Linked DNA regions of Homo sapiens: region 1 is linked to region 2. The links come from fine-mapping of genetic effects on plasma protein levels. Region 2 holds a variant in brackets. A gene starts in the other region. All regions are shown on their reverse strands.

Region 1 (8,837 bases), not on the chromosome of region 2:
CCCAAACTGAAGCTATGTAAATCATTAAACAATAAATTCCCTTTCCTCCCTCCTCCTAGCTCCTGGCAGCCACCATTCTACTTTCTCTCTTTCTGAATTTGCCTACTCTAGGTACCTCGTATAAGTGGAATCACACAATATTTGTTCTTTTGTGTCTGGCTTATTTCACTTAGCATAATGTTTTCAAGGTTCATCTGTGTTGAGCATGTTCATATCACTCTCGATTTTTATTCTATAGTACTGGCTTCCAGGAAGTTAGGAATTGGAAAGAAAGCTGAGATGGTAGAGAAGAGCCAGGATTTATCGAGTCACAGGATGAGAATTTTGAGGAGGGAATGGCAACAGCATCAGACACTACAGACGTCAAAGATAATGAGGTAATTTGTTGTTGTTTTTTGAGGCAGAGTCTCACTCTGTAGCCCAGGCTGGGGTGCAGTGGTGCGATCTCGGCTCACTGCAACCTCTGCCTCCCAGGTTCAAGTGATTCTTCCACCTCAGCCTCCTGAGTAGCTGGGAATACAGGTGCACACCACCATTGTATTTTTAATAGAGACGGGGTTTCACCATGCTGGCCAGGCTAGTCTTGAACTCCTGAGCTCAAGCAATCAGCCTGCCTTGGCCTCCCAAAGTACTGGGATTACTTGAGCTACCGCACCTGGCTGATAATGAGGTAATTTGACAAGAAAATTTTAGAATCAGTCATTAACATGTTTAGAGTAACTACTTTGTGTCTGGCATTGTGCTAGGCATTAGATTTATGGAGGTTGAAGCCAGACTGCAAACGTAGAGAAGTAGAGTGGACAGGAGATGATACTTGGATGTGAAGATTTGATTACTTCTATACAAAGAGGGGAGAGGCTGGGCACTATGGCTCATGCCTGTAATCCCAGCACTTTGGGAGGCTGAGGTGGGCGGATCACCTGAGGCCGGAGTTCGAGACCTGCTTGACCAACATGGAGAAACTCTGTCTCTACTAAAAATACAAAATTAGCCAGGTGTGTTGCACATGCCTGTAATCCTAGCTACTCAGGAGGCTGAGGCAGGAGAATCAGTTGAACCCAGGAGGCAGGGGTTGCCGTAAGCGGAGATCACACCATTGCACTCCAGCCTGGGCAAAAAGAGTGAAACTCCATCTCAAAAAAAAAAAAAAAAAAGGAATATATGATTGTTTTCCTATCATTAAATTTGGCACTTGTCAATTCTCCTCAGTAGAGTACTCTGCCACTGAGCTCCAAAACTATGAGTTTTCATAAGATCGTGAAGCAACTTTAAAGGTTGGTGGAATACCTGTGAGGGAAGAATAAGCTGGGCTAGGGTTCTTTTGCTTAAGAAGTCTTTGAGGAGGCTTCAGAAAAATACTCACAAACTAAGTCATATAGTATTTAGATTTGTTGTTTGATGGTTTGAAATTTATTATATAATTATAGGACCAAATGAGATGATCCCAACTTAATGACATCTATCTAGGTTTTAAAGATAGCAGTTAAAGACAATATGAGAGGAAATGGCTTTAAATTCTATAATAAAGGATTTAGGTTAGAAGATTAGAAGATTAATATTAGAAGAAAAATTTCTGACAATGAGGTTTGTTAAACTTTAAAGCAAGTTAACCTAAGATCTGATGAGCCTTCTCTGGGAGGGCTTTAGAGGTAAGTTAGATTTCTCTGTCTAAGGTGGTTTAGGAAAAGATGTTACCTGTAGACAGGTAGATGTGCTGTTGGTCCTTTGCAGTCTAGGAGTCAATAAAGGCCTTTGGCTCATCTAGCTGCAACCATTCTGCCTGTAGTTTATTTTTCTGGATAATTTAATGATTAATTTAATTGCCACACTGCCTAACAAGGAATTAATAGTTTTTCTTAACAGTTTTTTTTAAGATTCTTGTTTAGTAATGCAAATGGCTCACTCATTTATTTATCTATTTTTAGTCAGGCTGAGGTTTTTAGGCTTTTTTTTTTTTTTTGAGACGGGGTCTCACTCTGTCACCCAGGCTGGAGTGCAGTGGCGCGATCTCTGCTGACTGCAAGCTCCGCCTCCCGGGTTCACGCCATTCTCCTGCCTCAGCCTCCCAAGTAGCTGGGACTACAGGCGCCTGCCCGCGCACCCGGCTAATTTTTTGTATTTTTAGTAGAGACCGTGTTTCACCGTGTTAGCCAGGATGGTCTCGATCTCCTGACCTCGTGATCTGCCCGACTTGGCCTCCCAGAGTGCTGGGATTACAGGCGTGAGCTACCGCACCTGGCTTTTGTGTGTGTGTGTGTGTGTGTGTGTGTGTGTGTGTGTGACGGAGTCTCACTCTGCTGCCCACGCTGGAGTGCAGTGGCACGATCTCGGCTCACTGTAACCTACGCCTCCAGGGTTCAAGCAATTCTCCTGCCTCAGCCTCCTGAGTAGCTGGGACTACAGGCGCCCACCACCATGCCCAGCTGATTTTTTGTATTTTTAGTAGAGGCGGGGTTTCACTATCTTAGCCAGGATGGTCTCGATCTCCTGACCTCATGATCCGCCCGCCTCGTCCTCCCAAAGTGCTGGGATTACAGGTGTGAGCCACTGCGCCTGGCGGTTTTTAGGTTTTTATTGTTGTTGTTTCAGACAGGGTCTCACTCTCTTGCCCAGGCTGGAGCACAGTGTTGCAATCTTGGCTCATTGCAACCTGTGCCTCCTAGTTCAGGAGATGCTCTCACCTCAGCCTCCTGAGTAGCTGGGACTACAGGCACATGCCACCACACCCAGCTAATTTTTTTCGTATATTTTTTAGAGATGGGCTTTTGCCATGTTGCCCAGGCTGGTCTCAAATTCCTGGGCTCAAGTAATCCACCTGCCTCTGCCTCCCAAAGTGCTGGGATTACAGGTGTAAGCCACTGCGCCCAGCCATTTTATGTTTCGACAAACACACTTGTCAAGTAATCAAACAGATCTGTTTATTTGTGCCTCACTTGGGGAGGAAGCAGAAGCAGGCTGGAGAAGAAAAGCAAAAAAATGGTAACTTTTGGGGGATTTTTATGGGACTCAAGGTCATGATTTACTCATAACAGGACCTGGTTGGTTGTGCCCTCTCAAATAGAGCAGATGAACTCACTTTGTCCAGCTAGTGTAGTTAGTATTGCTCTAACCTGGTCTTTAAGTATTAGATTTGTTTAGTCACTGGTGTTCTGCAGCTTTAGGAGTGGAGTATGAAAAGAGTCAATTATAAATGATTTTAAGATTAAGAAGTGAGATGCATCTCTGTGTGGTCCATTTCATTTTAGCTCCACTAATAAAACATACTGGCGACCATAATTATATTCCAGTTATAGCAGTAATAGATTCTAGATTTTTCAGGACAGTTTCAAGGAGTCAGTCCTTTTGTTCCCATAAGTAACGTGTATTCAGACAACATGCTTTGAATTTGGTTTGGAAAATAGGATCACTGTAATTTATAGCAGCAGTGAGAAGACTGGTAGGAAGCTCCACTTCAGCTTTGCCTATATCACGTGCTGAATTGGGCATTTACAGAAATGGAGAATCATGGTTGGGCTGTGCCGAAATAAATCTGAGCCTGGGGTAGAAAGAGAAAACTGCCTCATATTGAATGCCTACTATGTATATGTTTGGCACTGTGCTAGGTGCTTTCCCTATTGACAGCTGCTCTGGCTAGAATTCTATCCTGGATCCAACTGCCACTTAAATAATATACCCCCACCCCTCAACAACAACAACAACAAAACAAACACATATGCCACATGGGGCTTAGTTCATTAAGACTCGTCACAGCTGCCACACCCTCTTTAAGACCCTGGCACCATAATTAGGATAATAGAATCTCTGGGTTTGGAAGTATCTTTGAGGTCATCTAGTTAGAAGGGGTGGCAGCTGTTCTCTTTACCATGGAGTTTGAGAATGACAGTGCTCAATTCTCTCAATGGGAGGTGCAAAATATGTCTGGGGCTGTAGTCTCTGCAGGCAATCCCATAAAAGATAAGGCAACGATAAACAAGTGTGAAGCTTGAAATACGTCCTAGGCGGAAAAGGGCAATGGGAAGAAATATGGCTTACTGGAGCCCTTATACAATGTAAAAACAAACAAATACTAAAAACGCCCTGGCAGAGATGTAATGTCAGGCCCTTGGATTCAGGGTAGAGGCCCACAAAAGGGATCCTGATTGACACAGGTTAACCCTGTGTCAAAGAAGAAAGAGTCTCTTCTGTTGGGTTCACCAGCTCTGAAGTACCTAGCCATCCTCAAGCCGCTTCTTCTTTGCCCTGTTATGAGAAAGCTGGGAAACTCTCTCCTTTTCCAGGAAAGAGGGTGAGGGACGGGGATTAAGGGGCGTGAACGAGAAAAAGCAGGTAGAGGTACTGAAATGTCTGAGTAGTGGTAAATGCAATCGTCCTGGAAGCAGGGGAAGGTATTTCACGCCCTCTCAAGGTCCCTTCGGTTCAAGGATACCGTCATTCTCCGGCTCTACTAAAGGGGAGGGCCTGCAACGTCCATGCTGCCATGGAAACGCGCCGCCGTGTTCCTTTTTCTTACGTGGGGCAGGGCACTCTGCCGCAGCTACCTATCATCCACGGGATTTCTTGAGTGGCGGGCGGCGGCAGCGAATGGACGATCCGATATTGTGTGACGTGACGGGAAAGGGGGAGTTCGCGGCCGGTGGCGGCGGTGGCGACAGCGGCGACCTAGGGATCGATCTGGAGGGACTTGGGGAGCGTGCAGAGACCTCTAGCTCGAGCGCGAGGGACCTCCCGCCGGGATGCCTGGTACTGTTTGGAGAGAAATGGGAGTGCAGTGGGCTCTGAAGGCCTGGATTTCGGGTCTGAAGGGATGGCTGACCGGAGGGGGCGGGGTGGCAAGCATGGCGGCGGTGACGGGGAAGGGGTTGGAGGGCCCTAAGGAGGGGGTGGGGAAACGTTAGCTAAGAAGGCTTGGTGGTCGTGAGGAAAGCTGAAAGGCTGTGGGGCCTCTGGCGAACAGATTTTAGAAAACATTCTTTTGGGGGGAGGTAGAGGCGCCAGAAGGACGTGGCGGGGGGGATGGAAAAAGGGGCGGGGAGAGAAGAGGTTAGGAAGGAGGGGAAAGGGTGTCTACGAGAAGGTGATGAAAAATAGGGAGGGATAGTCAGGCTTATTGTAAATAACGAGGAATGGTGACTTGGTAGGCATGATAGGAAAGTGCTTGCAGCAATTATAAATATAATATTCTAATTGGAGGAGTCCTGAAGTGGTCCCGTTTCCCAGCTCTTGTACTTCCGCCCCATTATTTAGGTTTAGACTGCGTGAGCAAGGCTAGTAGGTTACACGGAACTGATCTTTTGTTATTCCATTCCAGGGGAGCAGATGGACCCTACTGGAAGTCAGTTGGATTCAGATTTCTCTCAGCAAGATACTCCTTGCCTGATAATTGAAGATTCTCAGCCTGAAAGCCAGGTTCTAGAGGATGATTCTGGTTCTCACTTCAGTATGCTATCTCGACACCTTCCTAATCTCCAGACGCACAAAGAAAATCCTGTGTTGGTGAGTGATACCTTGTTTGAAGAAGATTGAGCAGATTTTTTTTTTTAAACCGAAAACCAGCAAACATAAGTATTTAGAAGATCATTACCTTCTCAATAAAGTTGATTGGAAAAATTGTTCACAAATAGTAGGTTTCATTTTGAACTATTTCATATATAATGGGGATATTTTGTATGTGTATTTTCTAGGATGTTGTGTCCAATCCTGAACAAACAGCTGGAGAAGAACGAGGAGACGGTAATAGTGGGTTCAATGAACATTTGAAAGAAAACAAGGTTGCAGGTGAGGTGTTTAAAGCTATCTGTCCCCTTTGCATTTTTTGGGTGCTCTTGTTGGTGCTGGGTGGATTTAAACTTTATGTGGTTGTGTCGAATGTATGTAAGGAAGCCTACTGTGGTATCTGCGTAGTAGTCACTCAAAAGTTGATGTGCTAGTGTCACTGATTAGATTGGTATTGTCTGTATTCCTGATTTTGTATTAAGGTTTGTTGGTAAATGTCTTTCATGCTAATATCCAGTTATTTTTTTCAGACCCTGTGGATTCTTCTAACTTGGACACATGTGGTTCCATCAGTCAGGTCATTGAGCAGTTACCTCAGCCAAACAGGACAAGCAGGTATACAGTGTTTGAAGGGGTTTATTTAAATGTATTATCAGATTTGTTCTTTTATCTGTACCTGTTGCCTCATCCCAAGGATAAAAGGATTAATCTCTTTCTTGTGGATTAGGAAATGGGACTTGAGGGTTGTATTAGATAGTATTGTAATAGTACTGATAGCTGGAAACTGTTTTGTGAAGGTAATAATTTTTATACCTACATTATTCAAATCATGATCTGTCTTGTGCATGTGAAACAAAATAAGCATTCCTCCTAGTAGAAAAAAATTATTAAAAAGTATTTAGGGGCCAGGCATGGTGGCTCATGCCTGTAATCCCAGCGCTTTGAGAGGCTGAGGCGGATGGATCACTTGAGGTCAGGAGTTTGAGACCAGCCTGGCCAACATGGTGAAACCCCATCTCTACTAAAAACAGAAAAATTAGCTGGGCCTGGTGGTGCGTGCCTGTAATCCCAGCTATTCAGGAGGCTGAGGCAGGAGAGTTGCTTGAACCTGGGAGGCGGAGGTTGCAGTGAGCTGAGATTGTACCAGTGTACTTTATCTAGCCTGAGTGACAGAGTGAGACTCCGTCTCAGCAAAAAAAAAAAAAAAATTTAGGAGTATTATCAGAACTATTAGGCATGTTTTCCATCTATCAACTGAAGTACCCCACCAGTTTTAGATCTAGAATGTTTAATTCTTACCCTAAACAAGATTCAATTGTTACCATGTCTTTTGCATATCTTTATAATACCCATTTTTTGAGTTCATGCTCTGTGTTAGGTCCTGTATTGGACGTTTGGCATATAGTATAATGTTATTTAATCCTATTCTTAAAGCAGCTGTACGATGAAGACATTACATTACTTCCATTGTATAGACGGGAAAATTGATGGACAAAGAAATTAGATAACTTGCTTTAGAGTACATTGCTAGTAAGTGGCAGAGCTGGCTTTGAACCTGGTCCTAATGACTCTAATGCCTCCTCTTTCATTCTAACTAATCAGTGCTTCTCAGTCTTCCGCCCCAATATTTCTAAGGTCCAAGGAGAATGTAGAGAACTTCAGGAGTTTTGGGGTGGTAGAAAGGGGAGGTGGTTAGAGAGGAGAATGTTAGCTTGAGATGGTTAAAGACTATTGTTTTTTCTTAAAAAGAAATGGTTTTTGGCTGGGCGCAGTGGCTCACACCTGTAATCCCAGCACTTTAGGAGGCTCAGACAAGAGGATCACTTGAGCCCAGGAGTTTGAGATCAGCCTGGGCAACCTAGTGAGACCCTGTCTCTACAAAAGAAAAAAAAAAAGGACTGGGTGTGGTAGCTCACACCTGTAATCCCAGCACTTCGGGAGGCTGAGGTGGGCGGATCACCTGAGGTCAGGAGTTTGATACCAGTCTGGACAACGTGGTGAAACCCGGTCTCTTAAAAATACAAAAATTAACGAGGTGTGGTAGCGGGTACCTGTAATACCAGCCACTCAGGAGGCTGCATCAGGAGAATCACTTGAACCTGGGAAGCAGAGGTTGCAGTGAGCCGAAATTGTGCCACTGCACTCTAGCCTGGGTGACAGAGCGAGACTCTGTCTCAAAATAAAATAAAATAATAAAAAAAAAAATAGCAGGGCATGGTGGTCCGTGCCTGTAGCCCCAGCTATTCAGGAGACTGAGATAGAAGGATCACTTGAGCCTGGAAGATTGAGGCTGCAGTCAGCCGTGATTGTGCCGCTGCACTCCAGCCTGGTTGATAGAGTGAGACCCTGTCTCAAAAAGAAAAGCTTTTTTGGAGGTGTGTTTTATTTTACACTCTGTGTCTGTACGTAATTTTTTTTTTCTCACAAATCATCAAGTAAAATAAATGCTTTAGAACAACCTGCAAACCGATGGGCTCATTGTGGCCTGCAGAAGTGTTTTATTTGGCCTACATAGGTGGTAAAATGTTAATATATTTGAATTAATTGACAGAATTTTAGAATGGGGAAATTTCTCATAAAACTTAGACTTCCAGCTTCTGGCATTTCTTGTTTCTGTTGGCAACAGTTGGCTGGAGTTATGAGTAGCAGTCAGCCTCTGCTTAGATGGAGCATTAGTGCTATGATTTGCCATAGTCACTACAATTCATTATTGTACTTGGACACTGAGGCCAGGTGTTCTTTTGTCATTTATCATAGTGCTTGTGCTTTTGTTCTTACACCCAGCTGCTTCACTCATCTATGTTATCTTGCTTTGATTTCTGTGGGCATTTAAGTTTATGGTACCTCTTTAAGAACATGTGCCAGGCTTATCTATGTTTTTGTGGCTCAGCATCCTGGTTTGAGCCAGTGGGGACAGGAAGTATGCACGTCCCTCATTGTGAATGAAGCAATGCTATTTGAGAAGTTTCATGCTACTTCTTTTCATGTTAAATAAATGTGCAGGCACTGTGGCATGTGCTTTAAAGGGGCTTTTGCCATTGTGGAGCTTATAATTTAATAGGAGAGACAGATGTTAAATGAGTCATTACATCAGTAGCTATTCCATTACAACTGTGATCATTGCAAAGAGGAGAAAAAATATATATAACGTAATCAGAAGGATAAGGGGACACCTCTTTGTGGAATACAATCTAAACAATAAATATGAATTTGTTAGGCATAGTTGAAGGGCTTGGAGGGCATAGTTGAAGAGCTGCACATTTCTATGTGCAGTATGAAAGGAGGAGCTGTCCAAACAGAATGAACTGTGTGTGCATAGGCCATGAAGCTGGAAAGAATTTGGA
Region 2 (8,839 bases):
CTTAAAATATTTTTTTAAAGAACCTTCATTCTCTTCTCTGAGAATCAGACAAGTACACAGCTCTTGCACCAGCCTGACGGAAGTGTGGTGACTGTCTTTTGATTGAAGTCTTGTCTTCTAGATTTCTAGTTGCTTCTCTGAGCTACTCTAGAAACTTTTTTTTTTTAAAGTAAAGCACTTTAATTGCAGGGAAAAAAAAAATGCCAGAATTTAGAGGTGAAACAATACAGGGGCCAAGACCAAAAAATTTTATTTGGACATTCAGAGGCTAGAAAGCCACTGTCCCGTTCCCCAGAGCCTCTGAGAAGTTGACTGAGAACCAATTAAAGAATGGCATCTATTCCTCCTCATCCTACCATCACCTCAGTCAGTCTGTGACCTGGTAACAGTGACTCCTCTCCTCACATCCAGTCCTCCCTGGCTGGAGCTCCTCAGGCCCGGCAGGCAGCTTACAGCTTCTCTGGCTTTGTGATTCCTTGCCCAAGAACGTACCCAAGGAGACCCTGTGGTGTAGGTGTGGGCCAGAAGCGCAGCCACCTGACAGAGCTCTCCTGGGAAAATGCCTTTCCAAGTAGCCTCTCAGGGTATGCAAAACTCTCTCCTAACACCCCAGTGTGTTCTATGTATTGGTGACTCCTCTTTTGGAGATTGTGAAGGCTCAAATCAGGTCCATATATTTTTCTCCTTAAAGGGATTACCGAAGGCAAAGGCAACACAATTTCTGCCTGGTTTTCCAGGTAGGACTTCATCTTACTGCAGAATAGTAAGCAGCAGCAGCCCTTGGCAGAAACCAAGCAGGGCAATAGATTTCACCCTTTCCCAGTCCTCTCTTGGTCAGGACTTCAGGCCCATCTTGGCCATCATCTCTTCATACACCATCTACGCCATTGCTGCCATTAGAGTTCTGCAGAGGGCTCGGGGGATGCCACCTTGGAAGAAGCCACGTAGTCCATAGTCTTTGAAAGTAAGTGTCACTGCTTGGCCAATCCATTGAAACTTCAGTGGGTAAAGCTGCATATGAGTTTTGATAACATCCGCAGGTTGAGTTACCAGTGAGGCGAGAATACCAGCAAATATCCCACAGCTGAAATTTGTAATAGGAATAAAGGTTGCATCCACCTGGTCATGGGGCACTATGTTTTTGGTCTGGTTGTAAAACATCAGGTAGTTTCCTGAAAAGGGCATATCTCGAAGGAGAGTTGCTGTCAGGCCACTGAAGAGGCCCCGGTGCCCCTCACTGCGATAGATGCTCCTCACGGCAGCGTAGATACTCTCATAGCCATATTTCCCACTCTCATAGCACATCTTGATTACAGTGATGGGTAACATACAGACCCCTGCAACAGAGAGAGAGCCCACCCCCAGCATGATTGACTCCAGGGCGGTTGGGGGATGGCCTCGCAAGAAATACCGCTTCAAAGACTAGAGAGTGCCAAAGTAGATTCCAACGCCAGGGACACATCTCACAACGGAAGGGGACATCCCTTTCCAAAGGCCTAAAAGACTCTCCGTGTGAACCACCTTCAAGAGTACAGCCAACATCCCAACACGTCTAGACCCATGATCTGAGGGCTGGAGGGTTTGCAGGCGTGTTTTAAGGAGATCCAGAGGTTGGAAAAGGAGGGTAGAGCAGGTTCCACTGATGGAGCCACACAGGAAAGCCTTGATCACCAGATGTAACTGGTGGTGCCTCATGTTTTCTTCATACCATAAGCGTTTCCACTGTGTCTCTGACATCTTGGGGTTGCAGCAGTGACGAATGTGAGTTCTGAATCATTGGAGATGAGGCCCGCGAGTGCTCTGGGCCCAGGGTGCCGTCGACGGGTGCTTGGGCCCAGCCCTGGAGGCCTCGAAGAAGGTGAGGGGATGGCTTACTTTAAGCCAAGGGCTCTCTGACCTCTGCGCCTGTAAGCATGCAGCCGCCCGGGTTCAGATCCTGCTAACACAGGGGCTGCAGGCGCAGAACAATTCCGCCACAGGAATTACGCGCCGCTCTTCACCCGCGCGGCAGACTCCGCGGCTCTGCTCTCCTGCCCATCCTGCCCCGCCGCGGGCTTCAGCACCGGAGGAGATGAGGTTCTGTGTCTAGAACCTTTCAATAAGTCCTTTTCCTGCTTATATAATCTAGAGCTTATACCTATTAATTGCAACCAAGACTCTCAGCTAGAACAATATTTAATCAGTACTTGTATGTTATGATTTTAATAAATATATTTTATTAAGAAGTACAAATAGCTATCACATACTAAATTTCATAAATATTAGCAGTTTAGTAAGTCTCCCTACTGAATCTATTCCATCCTAATAGATGCTGCCACCTACTTTATAGCAACTACCAAATGACAGGCCTAGTACCTAACAAAAGTTAAAAGGGGGACTTGCCTTGCCTTGAAAATTCAGCCCCCTGTAATCCCAGCCCTTTGGGAGGCCAAGGCAGGCAGATGGCTTGAGTCCAGGAGTTCACAGACCAGCCTGGGCAACATGATGAAACTCCGTCTCTACAAAAAATACAAAAATTAGCCGGGCTTGGTGGTGCATACTTGTAGTTCCAACTACTCAGGAGGCTGAGGTGTGAAGATCGCTTGAGCCTGGGAGGCAGAGGTTGCAGTGAGCTGTGATCACTCTAGCCTGGGCAACAGAGCAAGACGCCATCTCAAAAAAAAGAAGGAAGGAAGGAAGGAAGGAAGGAAGGAAAGAAAGAAAGAAAGAAAGAAAGAAAGAAAGAAAGAAAGAAAGAAAGAAAGAAAGAGAAAATAGAAAAGGAAATTCAGTCCCGTGAAGTAATAGCAATTTTTATATACTTGTGAAATATAAACTGTCTTGAATATCTCACTAATTATTTAATACATGCTGCTTCACTACTGGGCTTTTCTTATTCTCTCCAATTGCCCAAATGACTTACCAAGGCAATAGGTAGTGATGATGGCTCAGTGATATAGAATTTGACAATAATTCTATTCGCGCTTTCTTGGACCCAGAGGGATTTAATTATTGAGGAAAGAAAGACAGTCTCCTTGATTGGAGGACAGCGGCACTCCTATGATTTGGATACCCAAGAGCAAAGTTAAATGGAGATTCTAGGGCAGACATGCAAGTGGGCTTGATCTCACTTATCTACTGTGATCTGACAGCAGTGGCTGTCAGGAGCATGGTGACGGGAAGTATCTTGAGGCTACATCCTGGCTAAGCAAGAAAAACATAAGACAATTAACAATGCTTGCAAGGATGCAGAAGTGGTGACAAGAGCCCATATTGGCTCTACATGTTATCATGAAAAAATTAACCAAATAAGACCACGAAGGAGAGTTAGATTACAAGAAACTCCTTATTCTGTATAGTGGCTATGTACAGCCTTAATTTTGATTCTCAATAGACCTGCTGAGATTTCTTAGGGCCTGGATGAATAGTCCAATATCACAAGCCATTAACATACATGAAAATTAAAGATGTAATACTAGCAAGTGATCCTCTTGGAAATGTCCCCATCAGGTTCCAGCTGACCAAATGTAAACTTATTTAAGTATGTTTGTAGATCTTGAGCTCTTAGCCACAAACATCACTTTAAATGATGAGTAAAAATAGATAAGTACTTCAAACATTGGCAAACACTCAAAGATTCAAAACCAAATGTTTCTTCCTAGTTTACCTTGTTTAAAAAGATGACACAAACTACTCCTAAAAACTAGTGACTGCCTACATTGGTAAACATTCTGGTCCTGGTGGCCTCTGGTGTTTCTTCCTTCTAGTCATGTTGTCCTTTTAAGCAAGGGTCAC[T/C]CTTACTCCTCAGAGGAAAGTCAACATGACTCACTTTCAGAAACTGAAAGTACACCATGTCCACATAAGCAGTGCTGCTTACTGTATAACCGCAAAACCACATCAGAATAAGTCAGCTGCTCAGGAAGGAGAAGAAGGAGTGAGCTGAACAAACTCACCCCCATTCCAGATGGGGAGACTTTAAGAGTAGCCACAGGCTTCTTTGTTAAGCAGAGACTTAGATCAGAGGAGAAATGTCAGTGGCAGGCAGTGCAAGCAGGGTCCCTGGCTTCTGGTTACTGAATACATTGAAACAAGAGCCCACTCAAGGCCCCACTGTAAAGCCCTGAGGTTTTGGCTTCATCATCTCTTTCCTTTCCTTTGGTACATTCTTTCCCTAGTTTTCATCTCTCTCTGAACGTCAGGTGCTCTCTTGCCAAACCTCGTGTTAAGTGATTTTGGACAGGGTTTAAAGAAGTGGATCTTTTCTCTGAGTTAGATATTGTTAGGATCCCATGACTGGGTATCTTAATAATTCTTACCTAGAAGGTGTGAAGAATAAAACGAGACTGACTAAAGCATTCCTTGGTAAAGCAGCAGCAATCTCTTATATCAATAAGGATAGGGGCACACTGGTCATTTTTGTGGTCACTTTTAGACAACGCTCTTGGTTTCATCTGTGCTCAGACAGGATTATAGAGTGGATTTTATTTCTTTCTCTATTGTGATCACAGAGTGCCTTTTCTGATGTTGGCATTCTATGAAATTGTTTCTACTCAACAGGAGAACACTGGCCTAGCCATGAGTGCAGCACTAGCTTTAGCAACACCAAGGTCTAGCCTGTTCTCCATTCTTTCCTTGGGACAATCCACTCTTCCAAGTGACATAAACTAATCAGAAGAATTAATATCAGTTAACAAGAGTTAAGGGGCTGGGGAGGGGGGGTGTTCCGTACTTGCATTATAATAGTGACCTTTTAGAGAAAAGGCTGACCCCAGATAAACCATAATAGAGAAACTGGGTGGAAGAAAATAGATTCAGGAATTCTCCAATTAAACCATATAGGCAACCAGCTCCTCTGCCACCATATTAGCTGATCCTACATTTCATACCCACAGTTGAACTTCCAGGTAATCAACTAAATGAGGTCCATTCATGTTACCCTACTGTGCAGGCTTTTGGGATGGTTTGCCAACCACACTTCTAGAAGTCTCTCCTTTCATACAGAATCTCCTCTCATCTGGCAAGCTAGTCTCTTCTTGTTTTTCTGGTTTCTAAATGAATTCATATTGGAGCTTAACTTGCCAACCCTTATGAGTTGCTTTCAGAATGATCGCAACTGTTCTGAACAAGCCACCCTTTCTTGCTTGACTTCCCACTACTTTGGAGAGTGATTGTGAATCCTTGTGACTTCTCTTCACAGTACTCTTCTGCCACCTGGTGAAAGTTCGTAACACAACAAGACACTAGAGTTGCCATTCACTTTCAACTTCTACACACCCTGACACCAACACTAAGAAAACAGACACACTCACAGATGTCAGTCCATAAACACCTTGTAGGCATCTGATGCTCCCAGAAGAGGCCTGTCCACTAGGATTTCTGGGATGACCCCTCACCCATCTCTCCTTCTTCCGCCTCTCTGAAGGAAATAGCTGATTGAGAAGGATCCAGTTTTTTGCTAAGAGTTCACATTGAGACTGGAAAGGAAATGAGAATAAAAAGTATCTGGACTTCTGAAGGGGCCACAGTCAGCTCTGTGGGATAAGTGAAGCAGGAATTCCTGAGGACATCTTGCTGGTTCTCACCATCTTGTCTATAGTTCGTCCTAACAAATAAATCCGATGTCAACATTTATATCAAAGAAACAAGAAATAAATACCTATCTGTTTACCTCCTGTTTATATTAGGCCAGACATTTTACTTAATCTTCAGAATAGCTCTGTGAGATAATATATATAATTGTATAAATCTATGGGGTACAATATGATGTTTTCATCTATGTATACATTGTAGAAAGACTCAGTCAAGCTAATTAAAATATCGATCGCTTCACCAACTTATCATTTTTTGTAATGAGAACATTAAAAATCTATTCTTTTAGTAATTTTGAAATATATAATAACATATTATTAGCCACGGTCACCATGCAGTGTAATAGAACACTAAAATATATTTCTCTAATCTAACTTAAACTTTATACCCTTTGATCAACATCTTCCCTTTCCCAACACCTTCCAGAATATGTTAACACTCCCACTTCACAGAAAGAAAATGAAGGCATGGAGAGGCTAAGCAATGTGTCCAAAGTGACGTCCCTGGTTAGAGGAAGAGTTGAGGCTGAACCTCAGAGAGAAACGCCCTTGCAACTGCTGTACTTTTCTGACTCTTGCTATGCCACCTGGAGTACTGATCACTGGAGGAGAGAAAGAGGGAAAGAAACTCCCTACCTCCTTCCTGAGTCGACATTCTGTACCTCTTGGTACTGCATTTCTCAGGCACCCTAGTGCCCTTGGACCAGATTCCCAGCTTCCATGGCCTCAGGGAACATGGAATACTAATCATCCTTTTCCTTTGTCCTGGATAGTTGTAATAAGGAATCAGCAAGAGAAACTGAAAATCTAAATTCTCCTTCAGATCTAACTATTAAAAAATATGAAGCAATTAATAAAGTATGTATGTAGACATGTAAATAGAATAATAATATTTTAAATGTAACCTAAATGTTTGAAGGAACTTTTAAATAGATTTAAAAAGAAAATTAATTTTTAAAATCAAAATAATTTCTGAATCTTTTCTGCACACGAATGAACCTTTAGGGTCATGAAAAAGCTCAAACTGATGTATTTGAGATGTAAGAAGGACACCAGAAATGGAGTGCTTGCAACCCAGCCACCTGCCCTGACTGGCCAGCCTGGTGGCTCCTTCCTAGAGGAGAGATCAGGTAGGGCTCACTGGCATGGAGAAAAGCTGGTAAGTGTTGCTCTCTTAGGGAATCTCTGAACATAAGGAATGGGGAACAAGGAGAGGGGGAAAAAAGGAGGAACTCCTTCAAAGGACACTTTGGTCTGAGTGGCATCCATGGCAGAGACCATGAAAGGAACTCACAGATGACTCTCTGGAATAGAGATCACGAAGTGATGATGGTTCAAGAGCCAACTCCATTCCCATAGATGTGTTTTGATTGACTCACTCAGTGCTTTGTAAACTGTGAATTAGTGCCAGCATTTACAAATCAGGAAATTTCATATCAGTTTGTATTTTTGACTTGTCATGAGAAATGGAAGATCTGGTAATGCCAGGCCCACATCCCCACGTGAGAACAAGCTGAGTCCATCCAGGCCCTTCAGAGGATCAAGTGACTACTGCAGGCAGGCTGCAGTAGTCACTCAGCTTCCGTCTGGGAACCTAGAAGCAATTGAGTCTTTGGCTTTTGATCCAGCGGTGGCTGGCCACCCCACCAGCAAAGAACAGTGTACTGCCCCTAAAATCTGCCCACCCACCTAATTCTCAGCCTTCAGACAGGGCCATGACCACATGAATGTAGAGGCTATGGCCCCTCACCCCATTTAAGGATGTCCATAATTTGGTTAATCTTTCTGTACTTGTCAACTTGTGAATTGTTAAAGGCCAGAAGCTGACTCTTATTTTTCTTTGGACCCTATCCTCCTCCCCACTTTCACCCCTCTCAGTTCCTAATAAAGTGCCTTGCCTATAGTAGACTGTCAATAAATGTTGAATACATTTTTTTAAAAAAATCGCTGAGTGGGCGTTGTCTTCTACTGCCATCTAGCGACCATAAAATAGAATCATGCCTAAACACTGACACACCTGTAGGAATCACATGTTCCTTGCCCATCCATCTATTCATCTTCTTTCTTCCTTCCTTTATTTTTTTCATATTCTTATTTTTTCATTCCTTTGTCTATTCATTCATCCTTTCACTCAATACATACGTTTTGCTCATCACCTAGGTGACAGACACTGTGAGCTATGAAGAATCAATACAAACGTGCATAGATACAGAGAACTCCTATTGCTAGCCAAGAGGGAACAAGTCCACTACAGCCACTGTCTCTCATGGATTACAACTGAAAATAGTGGACAAAACATAAACTGCAACTACTTGAGAGCTCTAAAAAAATTAAGAATGCAAGCAAATTAGGAAGGAGAAGCTAAGCTTGAAGAAAAATCCATTCACAGGTGAATTTCCTTGGTATTTTTGTTCTTTTGTTTTCCCACTTTGACTCAAGAGTGGTTCCATCATGGAAGCGAGCAGCAAAAGCTCTAAGAGTATTTCTGATCAGAGGGCCCAGAAAATAGGTCCCCATAAAAAGAGGACTGGGAAAAATGGGAAGAGTAGAAAATTCCCATCAGTTTTTCTATTTTTTCCCAGTTCTACACCAAGGGCAGCCCACCCATGAACCTACAATGTGGTGGCAACAATGTCTCCAGTACCTAACACCTTGAGGGAAAACCCAAATTTTGGGCCAGAGGAACTAGAAAGGAACCAAAAGGAAATCCTGTAGTACAAAAAGGGTAGATGAATCACTTTTATGTTTTATCTTCCTCTCTCTTTTCTCTGCCATTTTGCTCTAAAGGCAGCCCCGATCATGGAGAATTATGGGTATTATGGTCACTATAGCTTCAAGTTAAATCTTATCTTTCTAGTGACCACATAACTAGGAAAACAAGCCCTTGGAAGTCAGAGAATTTGGGGGAAAGAAATACTTGAGGGGAAAGAGCTAGAGAAGGAAATCTTCTAATTCTGTAGCTAAAGACACACTGGAGTTATCTCTGAGTAGCACATGCACAGACAGACCCAGAGCAGCACAGCAAAGGCCTTGAAAATGTAACTAACATTGGAATCACCATCCAGAAAGGTGAGCTAAAACTTGCAGTCTGAACCTAACAAAATTGAGTATCTACAAAAGCAAAATAACAACAACCAAAAAATAACCTTCCCCAAAGGACTTTATTAGGACATAGAGTCTCCCCATATAGTACTCAAATTGTCAATAAAATCCAAAATAACTTGACATATAGCACCAAAAACATCTAACCACTCGTAAGGGAAAACAAAATC

Which allele goes with the higher level. Positions count from the first base shown, and alleles are read on the strand shown. Strength reflects both the effect of a copy and how common the allele is.
As copies of C replace T in region 2, the plasma level of the protein whose gene starts at base 4,621 in region 1 goes down (weak association).

Evidence for each region. PIP is the posterior inclusion probability: the model's chance that the variant is causal. The UK Biobank Pharma Proteomics Project read protein levels with antibody pairs (Olink). The fine-mapping took linkage between variants from a reference panel, not from the people measured, so its PIPs are less certain.
Region 1: it holds the start of TP53BP1, and the variant in region 2 is fine-mapped to the plasma level of the TP53BP1 protein (UK Biobank, PIP above 0.99).

The regions. Positions count from the first base shown.
Region 1 is chr15:43,488,940-43,497,776 of GRCh38, reverse strand. TP53BP1 (tumor protein p53 binding protein 1) reads left to right here and starts at 4,621. Exons shown (of 28, transcript NM_001141980.3): 1 at 4,621-4,740; 2 at 5,309-5,493; 3 at 5,682-5,775; 4 at 6,024-6,108. The coding sequence starts at 4,734. RefSeq lists enhancers at 2,183-2,683, 4,180-4,886, 4,887-5,595.
Region 2 is chr1:172,741,498-172,750,336 of GRCh38, reverse strand. It overlaps the pseudogene SLC25A38P1. Among named protein-coding and RNA genes, the nearest start is that of FASLG, 87 kb to the right of the region's middle. The variant T/C (reference allele first, on the strand shown) is at 3,775.